2 linked regions of the Homo sapiens genome follow. The protein of the gene in region 2 interacts with the protein of the main gene of each other region in a biochemical or structural test. Each region holds a gene or a part of one and is shown on either strand. Other genes may lie near its edges.

The links. Proteins that work in one complex are often made in the same cells at the same time.
Region 1: the proteins of UBXN11 (region 2) and RND2 form a complex in vitro, tested with the Homo sapiens proteins (one study listed by BioGRID).

What each region holds. Positions count from the first base shown.
Region 1 is NC_000017.11:43,028,187-43,032,541, reverse strand, and holds the end of RND2 (rho-related GTP-binding protein RhoN), read right to left. Parts: coding exon 4,347-4,355; intron 4,111-4,346; coding exon 3,862-4,110; 3' UTR 3,453-3,861; coding exon of another isoform or gene 3,428-3,452; 3' UTR 501-3,427; downstream 1-500.
Region 2 is NC_000001.11:26,282,628-26,289,671, forward strand, and holds part of UBXN11 (UBX domain-containing protein 11), read right to left. Parts: intron 3,411-7,044; coding exon 3,196-3,410; intron 2,915-3,195; coding exon 2,837-2,914; intron 1,856-2,836; coding exon 1,735-1,855; intron 1,619-1,734; coding exon 1,515-1,618; intron 311-1,514; coding exon 237-310; intron 163-236; coding exon 22-162; intron 1-21. UniProt on the Homo sapiens protein: May be involved in the reorganization of actin cytoskeleton mediated by RND1, RND2 and RND3. Promotes RHOA activation mediated by GNA12 and GNA13.

The sequences.
Region 1 (4,355 bases), on a different chromosome or scaffold from region 2:
GCTGGGCACGGTGGCTCATGCCTGTAATCCCAGCACTTTGGGAGGCCGAGGTGGGTGGATCACGTTAGGTCGGGAGTTCAAGACTAGCCTGACCAACATGGAGAAACCCCATCTCTACTAAAAATACAAAATTAGCTGGGCATGGTGGCACATGGCTGTAATCCCAGCTACTTCAGGAAGCTGAGGCAGGAGAATCACTTGAACCCAGGAGGTGAGGTTGCCGTGAGCCGAGATCGCGCCAGTGCACTCCAGCCTGGGCAATAAGAGTGAAACTCCGTCTCAAAAAAAAAAAAAACACTAAAATTAGCTGTGCATGGTGGCGCGCGCCTGTAGTCCCAGCTACTCAGGAGACTGAGGCAGGAGAATCGCTTGAACCCAGGAGGCAGAGGTTGCAGTGAGCCGAGATGGTGCCACTGCACTCCAGCCTGAATGACAGAGTGAAACTCCGTCTCAAAAAAAAAAAAAAAAAAAAAAAAAAAACACAGAAACTCTGGCAGCCATCACAGTGTGATTATTTGTTTATTTCATTAAATGTTTAACGAGGCTACATTGTTTCCCAAACCAATGTCTAATTTGTGAAGGAAACAGCGCAGAGAAGGAAGCTGGGTGACTCCTGCATCTGGGGTGGGGAAGGGAGTAAGGTCCCCTCCCTCCATCCTACAGAGGCCTTTGAGGATCAGCAACAGTCCCATTCCCTCCTCCCACCCACTGAGCTCCTCAGCCCAGAGCCCTCCTCCCCAGAAATAAAACGTCTGGCAACCCAGACCTGCAGAAAGGGACCAAAAATCCATTCCTGGTGGTATTGAAAATGTATTAAACTTTGGGGGGTCCTCCAGCTGATTGATTTTTCTAATTATGTTTGCTTTAGATGGATATTTAAATGCATTTGCATTCCCTGAGCTCACATGGCAGGATATGGAGGTTGGAGGAAAGAGGGGGCACAAACACTCCACACTCTGCACTTTGGTGGTTGCAGGCTTGAACCTGCTATACACTGAGAAGTCCAAAGTGGAAAAGAGAAGCCACTCAGCTAAAAATCGCAAGTCGATTTTTATGGCAGGTCCTTGTGGGGAAAGGGTCAGTCCTCAGAGACAGATGGAGATCCACCTAGCTGGGCCTGGAGCCCCTGCCCTCTCCTGTACCCTTAGCCGAGGACTCAGGGTCTTTGAGTCAGTCCCTAACCAGGTCTCAGTTTGAGGGGGTGGTTATCCAAGCACACTTAGATAATTTCAAATGCCATTGAAGTTATCCTAGAATCTTTGAGACTGGCTGAGATGAACTAGTCCCATAGGAGAGGTTGGGATAGGGATATCTGATGATCCAGGGAGTGGTGGGTAGGGATTCCTTTCCTCTCAAGACTGGAACCTGGCATAAGGGAAAGGAGAAGCTATTTTTTATTTTTTATTTTTTAATTTTTTTTAGAGACAGGGTCTCACTCTGACACTCAGGCTGGAAGACAATGGCATGATCATAGCTCACTGCAGTCTCTAACTCCTGGCCTCAAGCGATCCTCCCAGCTTGGCCTCCCAAAGGAGGAATCTTGGCTGGGATTATAGGTGTGAGCCACTGCCGAGAAGCTATTATTTTAAATGACACACCTCAGAGCCAAATCTCCCAGCTCCAACACCACATCCAGATAACCATCTATCCAAAAAACAACTCTGATCACTTCACTCTCTGCCTGAAATTCCTGGTGGCTTCATCCTCTGAGGATGATTTCATTCATCCTCAGAATGAAATTCTGATTCCTCTGTGGACCCTGCAGTAGCCTCAGTGTACCTTCCTAGCCTTGTCTTCTATTCTCCCTGCCATGGGAGCCCCAACAGTGCTATGCTCATTCTCATCTCCACGTGTTTACACATGCTGTACCCTCTGCCCAGAGTGCCTTTCCTACCCCTTCCCTGCCCGGAAAACTCCTCTTCAACCCTCAGGACCTGGCTCACAGGACTGGCTTCTCAGGCTGCAAGGAGCTCCCATAGCATCCCATACATGTACAAATATCCCTCAGCCATGGCACCCTCACACCTGAGGTACCTCTCTTCCACACTGGGCTGGCCTCCAAAAGCTTAGAGACTGGTCCTTGCAATCTCCCAAGCCAGTGTATGCCACACAGTTGGTGTTCAGTACATACTTGCTGAATGAATGAATGAGGGAGGAATGGGCTATAAATTTGGGTGGGATCCCAGCAGATAGTTGGGTAAGGTCAGTGTTCTCTTCCAGTGTGTCTGGGAGAACTGGCTAGGGCTGGGGGAGGGAAGGGCCAGGGATGGTTCCTGGGGGAGAATGTCACCGAAAAGAGGCCAGTGGGACCAGAGCCAGGAAGGGAATACAGGACAATCTGAAACCAGACTCCCGAGAAAACAGACCAGTACTGTCTTTCCTGACAACAGGCGCTCAGCCGTCCTCTCCACCGTCTTTCCTTTAAGGGACAGGGTAGGGGTGACTCTAACAGCTGATGCTCCCCTGAAAGCCATCATGAAACTCAGCATGGGAGGAGAGAAAGGTCCCTGGCCTGAGCCTCTAAGGAGACCCCAGAATCAAACTACTGACCTCTTAGGAAACTTCACGCTGTACAGGGGTAGCTTCTGTGATGTGGAGGCTTTTGATGCCTTCTTTTTTTTTTTTTTTTTTTTTTTTGGAGACAGAGTCTTGCTCTGTCATCCAGGCTAGAATGCAGTGGCGCAATCTCGGCTCACTGCAAGCTCCGCCTCCCAGGTTCACCCGGGTTCACACCATTCTCCTGCCTCAGCCTCCCGAGCAGCTGGGACTACAGGCACTGCCACCGCGCCTGGCTAATTTTTTGTATTTTTAGTAGAGATGGGGTTTCACCGTGTTAGCCAGGATGGTCTCGATCTCCTGAACTTGTGATCCGCCCACCTCGGCCTCCCAAAGTGCTGGGATTACAGGCGTGAGCCAGCGCGCCCGGCCTGATGCCTCCTTATCCCCACAACCCCCAGGGTACCAGCAGGCTCCAAGCCAGGGGTACAGATGGTGAGCAGGACCCCTCCCACACTAGCAGCAGGCCTGGCTGGGCTGAGAAATGCTGACTAATTATATGTCGGTCTGCTCTAAAACCCCCTAATGGCCTGAGAATTGCCCACTTCATTAACTAGGATGAACAGTCCCAGGATGTCTCCTTCTCCCAACTCTGACTCCTAAAAGGACACTTCTGATCCAACCTATGGCTTTGTCCTCTGCTCTATCTGTGGACATGGACAGGAAAGTTCCCCAGCTGAGGTCTAACTTTCCCTCTTACTGCTAAAGATTGGTAGATTGATTTTTTTAAAAAGCAACAAAACTAAAGCCACAGCCGTTTTCCATGGAGGTGGGCTTTATTAGGTGACTGTTGAGGCAAGGGAGGTTCTAGGGCTGGTGGACTGATGGGGGGCAAGGGCTTCTCCTTGCTTTTGAATTTAGTGCATGTTGCCTAGAGGTTAGATGTGTGAGAATAGCTGCAGAAGTGAGAGGAGAGGAAAAGAGAAGGTCATAGAATGGACATTTTCCTTGGGCCAGAACCAGGATATGGGGACTGGGGGTGGAGAGGGAGGGTACTCTTCACATAGGAGACTCCACCAAGGTCACCATTTGATACCAGCTTCCCTAACGCCCACCTGCCCCATCCCAGTTCATGCCCCAGATGCCAGCCCTGTTAGCTCCCTCAACATCCACTGGAGAAGAGGAGGGAGGAGGAGATGAGAAACGATGATACCCTTCTGCCCTCCAGCTCCCCTGCCCAGAATTGCTCGCTCTGCCTGCCCTAACTTCCCAGCCAGGATCAGGAGGTCAGGAAGCCTGGGCGCAGGCAGGGGAACAATTGTGTCCCTCACCACCCCTCTTCACACTCTGCCCTCTCCTAGCCCCTCACATGAGGTTGCAGCTTTTGGCTCGATCCTTGTGTATCTCGCCCTCATTCCCCCGGTCTGGCCGTCCTGACAGCTGAGCGGATCGCTGCATTCCCCGGCGTGAGTCAGTTCGGCGCAGCTGCCTATGGCCACGGCCAAGGGAGGCCACTGTAGCCACATGGAAGACATCCCTGACGCTGCGCTCAGAGGACCGGGAGGAGCACTCAACATAGGACACAGCCCCCACCTGCTTGGCCAGCACAGTGCCCTGGAAAAGGAAGGAGTGCATGGGAGAAAGTTATAGGTCTTAGCCTGCAGCTTAGAAAGGGGCATGGAGGCTGTGGGCTGGGGTTGAATGTCAAGGCTGGGGGCAGTCAAGGGATCAGGTCAGAGGTCACAGACCAGAACAAAGGATGAGCCAGGTAAGGTGTTTTCAAATCAGAGACTGAAGGGGCAGAGGTGACAGGTCTAGGCTGGGATGAGGTCAGACGTCAAGGGTCCCACCTGCTCATG
Region 2 (7,044 bases):
CTGGCCCTGCCCTGCACCCACCTGGCCTGCGCTAGCAGAGCTCGCACGTCCCCAATGGTGTTGTCAGGCTGCATCATCAGTAGGAAGGCCTGTTCCCCATTCTCAGACTTGATGCGCAGCATGGAGAGCGGGGGTGCCGGCGTGTTGGGTGACTCCTGGCTCCTGCACAGCCCAGAGGCCATCAGCACGCGGTGACCCAACGCCCCCAGGCCCTCACCTCCTCATCCCGCCCTCACCTCTCTCGCTCAGCGGCCAAGGTGGGCGTCTCCACCACAATCTCCTGGATCCGGGCAGGCAATGGGCAGCAGTTCTGGAAGGTATCAGTGGAGGGTGGACAGAGCCCTAGGCCCCATTTGAGTCATCCCCACAAACCTTAGAGGGACACTTCCTTGACCAGGGACAGATGAGACCAGTGAGCAAAGCGGGAGGGGGTGTTCTGTATAAACCAAGGCCAGAGGAGAGGCAATGGAAGGGGAAGAAGGTTCTGGGAGGCAGCCCCATGGTTCCCCCCAGGTAACCCCCCGTTTCAGTCTAATGGAGACAGAACCCCACACAGACGATGATCAGGCTGGAAGCCCACCCCAGCCTGGGGTCAGGGAAGGCTTCCCTCGGAAAATGACAACTGAGCTGTGACTGAAGGATGAATGGGAGTCCTTAGAAATGGAATGGATGCAGGGATATTCCAGACAGCATCAACAAAGATCCTGGGTTCAGGGAAAGCTTCCTAGAGGTGGCGACACATTTGGGCAACTGCCAGCATTATGTGTGGCTGAAGCTGGGGCTCAATTGGACTGGAAGGAAAAGGTTGGTGTGAGGAGGGGCCTGGCAATATAGGACGGGCCTTGAGTGCCAGCATAAGGAACCTGGCTTTATCTCAAGAACCACTGGAACATTTCAACAGGGAAGGCAGCCTGGAGGATGGTCAGCAGGGGCAGGAGTGGCAGTGGGAGGCAGCTGTCTGGGAGAGACACTCTGAACCCTAGACTAGGGTGGTGGGTGGTGGGAATGTGGAGAAGGGATGCATCTGGGAGAAGTTCTGGGGGTGGACAGACCAGACAGGACTTAGCAATGTGTGGGTGAGGGAGGCAGAGGAGGCCTGAGAAACTAAGGTTTGGTGCCTTTCACAGGTGGACACCTAGGAGGAGAAGCAGAATAGGGAGCGAGGAGACAGAATGATGAGGGCCAAGGAGAGTCTGAGGCAACCACGAAGGGAGTACCCAGTACTGAGTTGGATATTTTGGCCTAGACCTTGATGGGGTGGCCTGGGCCTTGGGCTCACCCCTGGCCTGGACTCTGACTTTAGCCCTCTTACAGCTAACCCACCTGCTTTCCGGGGCCCAGCCCGTGCCCTCACCAGCCTCACAGTTTCCAGGAGACAGTGGAGCAACAGCTCTGAGGGACTCATCAGGTGCCTCAAGCTTGAGCCTTCTGACAAGACACTGTTCTGGCAGGCTGGACCAGGGCTGGTGCTAAAGTTCCCCCAGGAGGGCTGGGGGAGTTAGCATTGGCCTCACCTGCAAGGTGTCCCTGATGGGGCCCCGGATGTCAATCACCTCGCCTTGCCGGATCACAAACTTGGGGAGCCTGTTCAGAAATTTCTCAGCAGTCATCCTGGAGCCTACAGGCAGAGTTGGGAACCGGGGCCCAGGAAGGACTATGAGTGGTGGTGGAGCCCCCCTGGAGTTTGTTCTGCAGTCCCCCAGCCCCCTGGCTCAGCCTGGAGGCCAAACTCACCTGGGTGCTCCTCCACCCTGTCCAAGGCCTTGTGCATCAGCTGCCTGCCCACCACACGGCCCTCGCCTGGGAAGGGGTCCAGTCCATCCTCCAGGTAGACCTGATTGCGCAAGTCACTCACCTGGCAAGAAAGAAGGGCAACGACGGCAGCGGACCCAGCTCTTCAGCCCTTGGCCCCACTTTCATCCCTATTTGCCTAAACACAGGCCAAGGGTATGGTCTAATGCAACCCCCATTTTACATATGAGGAAACCCAGGCCTCAGGAGAGCCACGGTTCGTACTGCTGTCATCTCCCTCAGCCCTGCTGCTCCTGTAAGCACCCCATCCACGCCAGCTGAAGCTGCAGTACTGACACCCTCCTTGGAGACCCCCCTCTCAGGAGCCTACCGTGAAGGCAGAGTGTGAGGGGGTCAGGAGAGGACAAAGCCCCTGCTTTTTTCCAGTCTGCAGCACAAACCGCATCATCGTACATGTAACCTCACTTGCCTTATCAAGGCATAGCTCCGAGGTCCCCGCTGTGGCACGAATGCCTTAAACACCCCCGCGTCATGACTCATGCTGTTTCCTGAGCCCTGGTGACACATGCTCCCTCCCGGACACGCCCTCAGTGCGGCACTAACCCACCACCTTCTAGAACACGAAGCCTCATGGGCTCTGGTGGTGGCACCTACCCATGGGGCCAGCTCTACCTCATGTCTTTGAGTCCCAACATCTGTCCCCTCTGCTTTGCATTTGTGGCTCACAGCACTGCCTCCCACCCTACCCAGATAGCTTCAGGAGACTTGGGGGACAGCCGGGCCACTTCTGCAGGGACCCCAGGTTGTCAAGGTGTCCTGAAAGCTGGGGAGGACTAGAAGGCAGGGGCCCCGCAGCCGAGGCTGTCTCCAGGGTGCCAGCAGAGGGCGCTGCCTGCTGCTCTGTTTCGGGCCTCTCCGCTCCCTTCCCAGCCCGGCTTCAGACTTATCCTCCTGGAGGGCATCAGACTGGGGTCCCCCAGGGAGTGCAGCGGCTTCCCCTCAGAATGGGAGGTGTCTGGGGAGGCTGTGTATCCCCACTCCCTTCAAAATCCCCAAAGGTGTGGTTTGAGGAGCAGCTTATCACCTTAAAGGGGACCCCATTGGGGTACAGTCGCTGGAGCTCTGAGGGAAAGAAGCCATCCAATATGTCTCGGAGGCAGCGCTGCAAGGGAAGAGGAAAAGTGAGGGGGTGGCCTGGGCCTTGGGCCCACCCTGCCCTGCCACTGGTCTGGATGGCAGGCCCTAGATCCAGGGTCACCCAGTGCCGCACTCTGGAAACATTCAGAGTCCCAGGCCTTGGGAGAGGGGCCTCTGCAAGTCGTGTGTGGGCCTGGGTGCCCCGTGGAGGGCAGGCTGGGCCTGGGGTGAGCTGGCTTCATCATCCCCAACTAACAGTGGGCAGCAGGGGCACTAGAGCACCACCCCCCCCAACACCGCTCCTACCTGTGTGGAGGGATCGTAGAAGGGCTGGAAGGGCCCGTCGAACATCATGATGCCATTCCGGTAGAGCTTCAGCGGGATGGGCTCGAGGGTACGCAGCCGTGCCCCGCCGGGCACTGGTGTCACTTGGGTGTCACCCTCTACCACCAGCTCACTAAGATCCTGCAGGCTGGCCAGCAGCCTGTCAAAGTCCACCTCAGGGGGCGCCAATGAGTCCCCTGGCAAAGAGGACAGACACCTGTGAGCCGCCTTTTGGCTGTCATGTCCCTAGCAGCCCTAGCCTCTGTGGCTCCCTCCCAAGCTGGGCAGTGGTCTTAATGTCTCCTTAACTGACTGCCTGGGGAAAAGGACAACGCTAGATAATAACAGCAGCTGTCTTTTATTGAGCACTTATTTTGTGCTAGGGGTTTACTATCCATATTCCATTCCCACTTCTTATCAAGCCTATCTATAAAGGCTATAATCACCTCCATTTTTTCAGATGAGGAAACTGAGGGTTAGAGAAAGTTACATGGCTTGTGAGAAACACAGTAGTAAGCAGCAGAAGCAGGATCTGATCCCAGATCTGTGTCAGGCACTGGGTTGGCAGCTGAAAAGTACAGGGCAGAGCTCCCAGCTCTGGATCGAGGCCTTCTGGGTTCAAATCCCAGTTCCTCCCTTCTATCTGTGTGACCTTAGGTCATTTAATGCTTGTGCTGCAGCATTCTCTTCTAGAATGGATGACAGTAGTATCTGCCTCCTAGGATGGCTGTAAGGCTCCAAGAAGTAACCATGTTAAGAGCCAGCTTGGAACACGCACCCTGTCCATGTTTGCTACTGTGCCCAACTCCACCTTGCACACATGGTCCTTACGCCAACCCTGAGGCTTAAGGCAGGGGTAATTATTTTTATTTATTTGAGATGGAGTTTCACTCTTGTTGTCCAGGCTGGAGTGCAATGGTACAATCTTGGATCACCGCAACCTTGCCTCCTGGGTTCAAGCGATTCTCCTATCTCAGCCTCCTGAGTAGCTGGGATTACAGGCATGAGCCACCACACCCGGCTAATTTTTGTATTTTTAGTAGAGATGGGGTTTCATCATATTGGTCAGGCTGGTCTCGAACTCCTGACCTCAGGTGATCCGCCCGCCTTGGCATCCCAAAGTGCTGGGATTACAGGTGTGAGCCACCACGCCAGGCTGAGGCAGGGGTTATTTAGTTCCATTTTACACATGAGGAAACAGGCCCACAGAGATGAAAAATGACTCGTCCCAAGCCACTTGGTGAGAGGAGGAACTGGGAAGGGAGCCGGGGCTGACTCTCAAGTCTGTTTCCCCCACCCATCTGCACCATCAGGAGAGGGAGGTCAGAAGAGGGACAGATGGCTCTCAGGGAGGATGTAGGGACAGCTGCTGGCCAGAACAGATATGGGACAGACCTTAGGTTGTGCAACTATTTCTGGGTCACAGACCCCTTTGAGAAGCTGACAAAGCTCTGGCCTCCTCTTCTGAAACACGTGTGGCGCATACAGCTGTGTTCTGGCTTCAGGGGAGAATACGGAGCGGTGGGGACAGCCGTGACAGACAACAGAGCAGAAAGGTGGAGGGCAGGTAGATGCTGGCTGGGTACAGACCAGGGGCCTGTTCTGTCATCTTTGATGGGACCTGGCCCCCAAGTAAGTCATCTGTTTGGGTGTGCCCTACAACACACCAATAACTTTTGGGGCCTCAGAGAGGCTGTTTTTCAACAGGACAAGCAGGCTGCGGCAGGATGTGGGTCAGGGCTCTGGGGACCTAATTCCTTTCCTCTCAGTGGTGCAGTGGCTGTACCAGGGAGGTGCAGATGTGTTTCCTGTTGCTTTTGCAGCAGGTGAAATGGTAGGCCCCAGCTGGCCTTCTCCTCTCCCCTATATTTCCTACCATTGAAGGGGCTATACCTGCCCCCAGCCCCTCCGGGGGCTCCCCACATAGTCCCTGAGATTCCCAGGAAAAACTCGCCTAACAGAATGATACCAAGACACTTTTCTTTTAACAACTACCTTAAGGACAAATAGGCAAACCTAAAAACAATAGCAGAATAGATCATCTCATACAATGCCTGCCTCAACCCTTTTTTTTTTTTTTCCGAGAAAGGGTCTCCCTCTGTCACCCAAGCTGGAGTATAGCGGCACAGTCATGATACTGCAACCGTGACCTCCCGGGTTCAACTTATCCTCCCACCTCAGCCTCCCAAGTAGCTTGGACCACAGGCAGGCATCACCACACCCTGCTAATTAATTTAAAAAAAAATTGTAGAGATGGGGTCTCGCTGTGTTACCAGGGCTCTGTCTTCTTTATAGATGGGGAAAGTGAGGCCCAGAAAGGTCAGATGACATGGCCTGATCAGACCAGACAGAGCCAGGAAGAGCACCAAATACACCAACTCCTAATTCAATGCTCCTGCCGCCTCCCAGGGCCGGGGGTTTTTCAGGCTGATGAACATGGGTGGTTGACATGGGATGGGGTGAGACCAGGGAGGATGCCAAGAAACGACGAAGGGGAAGAGAGAAGCTTGCCAAGAAAATGGCCCTGGCTTAAAGAAGTAAAAGCAGGTGGCCCAGGCAGATGCTGGATATGATAGAGTGGAGATGAGACCAGGGGCCAGGAAGAAGGAACCACAGCTCTGGGCAAACCAGCACTGAGAGAATGAGGTGGGAAGAGCTACCACAGCAGGGCCTTGTGAAGCCAGTGAGCCCCCACCACCCCACCAGGGTTCAACTGAGGCCTGACCCGTGGATGGAGAGAGGTGCAGCTGGGGAGTCACACAGCAGGAGTAAGGTCAGAGGGCAAGTCCTAGGTCTGCCCTGAGCTAGCAGCAGAACTCAAATGGAAAGGCACTTCCTCTTTGAGCCACAGCCATCCTTTCTGTGCAATGGGGAGATGGTAAGAACCCTGTACTGCCTGCAAGATCCAGCTGGTGAACCTGTCTGTAAATGACAGCCCTGTGCCAAGCGCCAGGAGGCAGGCATCACCATTTCTGTTTTACAGATAAGGAAATTGGGCCTTATGAGCTGTCACGCCCCAGATCATGCAGCTTGCAGGGCCCAAGTGACTCAGCCTCAGTGCTCAGTGATCACATAGGCTGCCTCTCAATATTGGTTCTTGAGAGGCTGCTTACTGGGGTCCCTTTTCCAGGGAGAGTGGCAATGCTGGGAGATCACCTCTGAGGCCTCATCCAACTTTGAGAGCCCACGAGTGTATTAAAATGAGAAGGGAGCTCAAGTCCAAGCTCTTTGTCCCAACTCCCAAGACCCTTACTTAGCACCCAGCCAACCCTCAACATGCCCCTCGCCTTGCGCTCTGGTGGGCACTGGAGGGCACTTCCGAGCTCTGTAACCCTGGGCCTCTATGGGCCTCAGCTTCCTCTTCTGTACAATGAGGACGATAAAAGTTTCCACACTTCACAGGGCTGCTGTGAGGCTTGGAGGAAGCGTTTGGCAGATGGTGGCTGTTGTTGTCCCTAGCACCGCCTACTCATCGCTGGGCTCAAGCTGTGCCCACTCACCCCTACCTCCTCCAAGAAGCCTTGCTAGGAGCCACCCCCAACCTGCCTTGAGGCTGCATGCCTGGAGCCCTTGCACCTACTCCCTTGGCCCTCGTCACAGGCCGCTGCTTTCTGCTTGCTTGTTTGCCTTCCAGCCATGCTGGGCACCCCTTGAGCTCAGGAGCATTGAGCCCTGGGCCTGGCCCAGAGTGGCTGGGCCACTAAAAGCAGGGTTGGATCCTGCTTTCCAGAAATGTCTGAGCACCCGTGCTCTGCTAGGCCCTGCCCATCATGGCGATGCCCACGCCCAGGGTCCTGCCATCCTCAGGCTCAGACTCAAGTGAAGAAGACG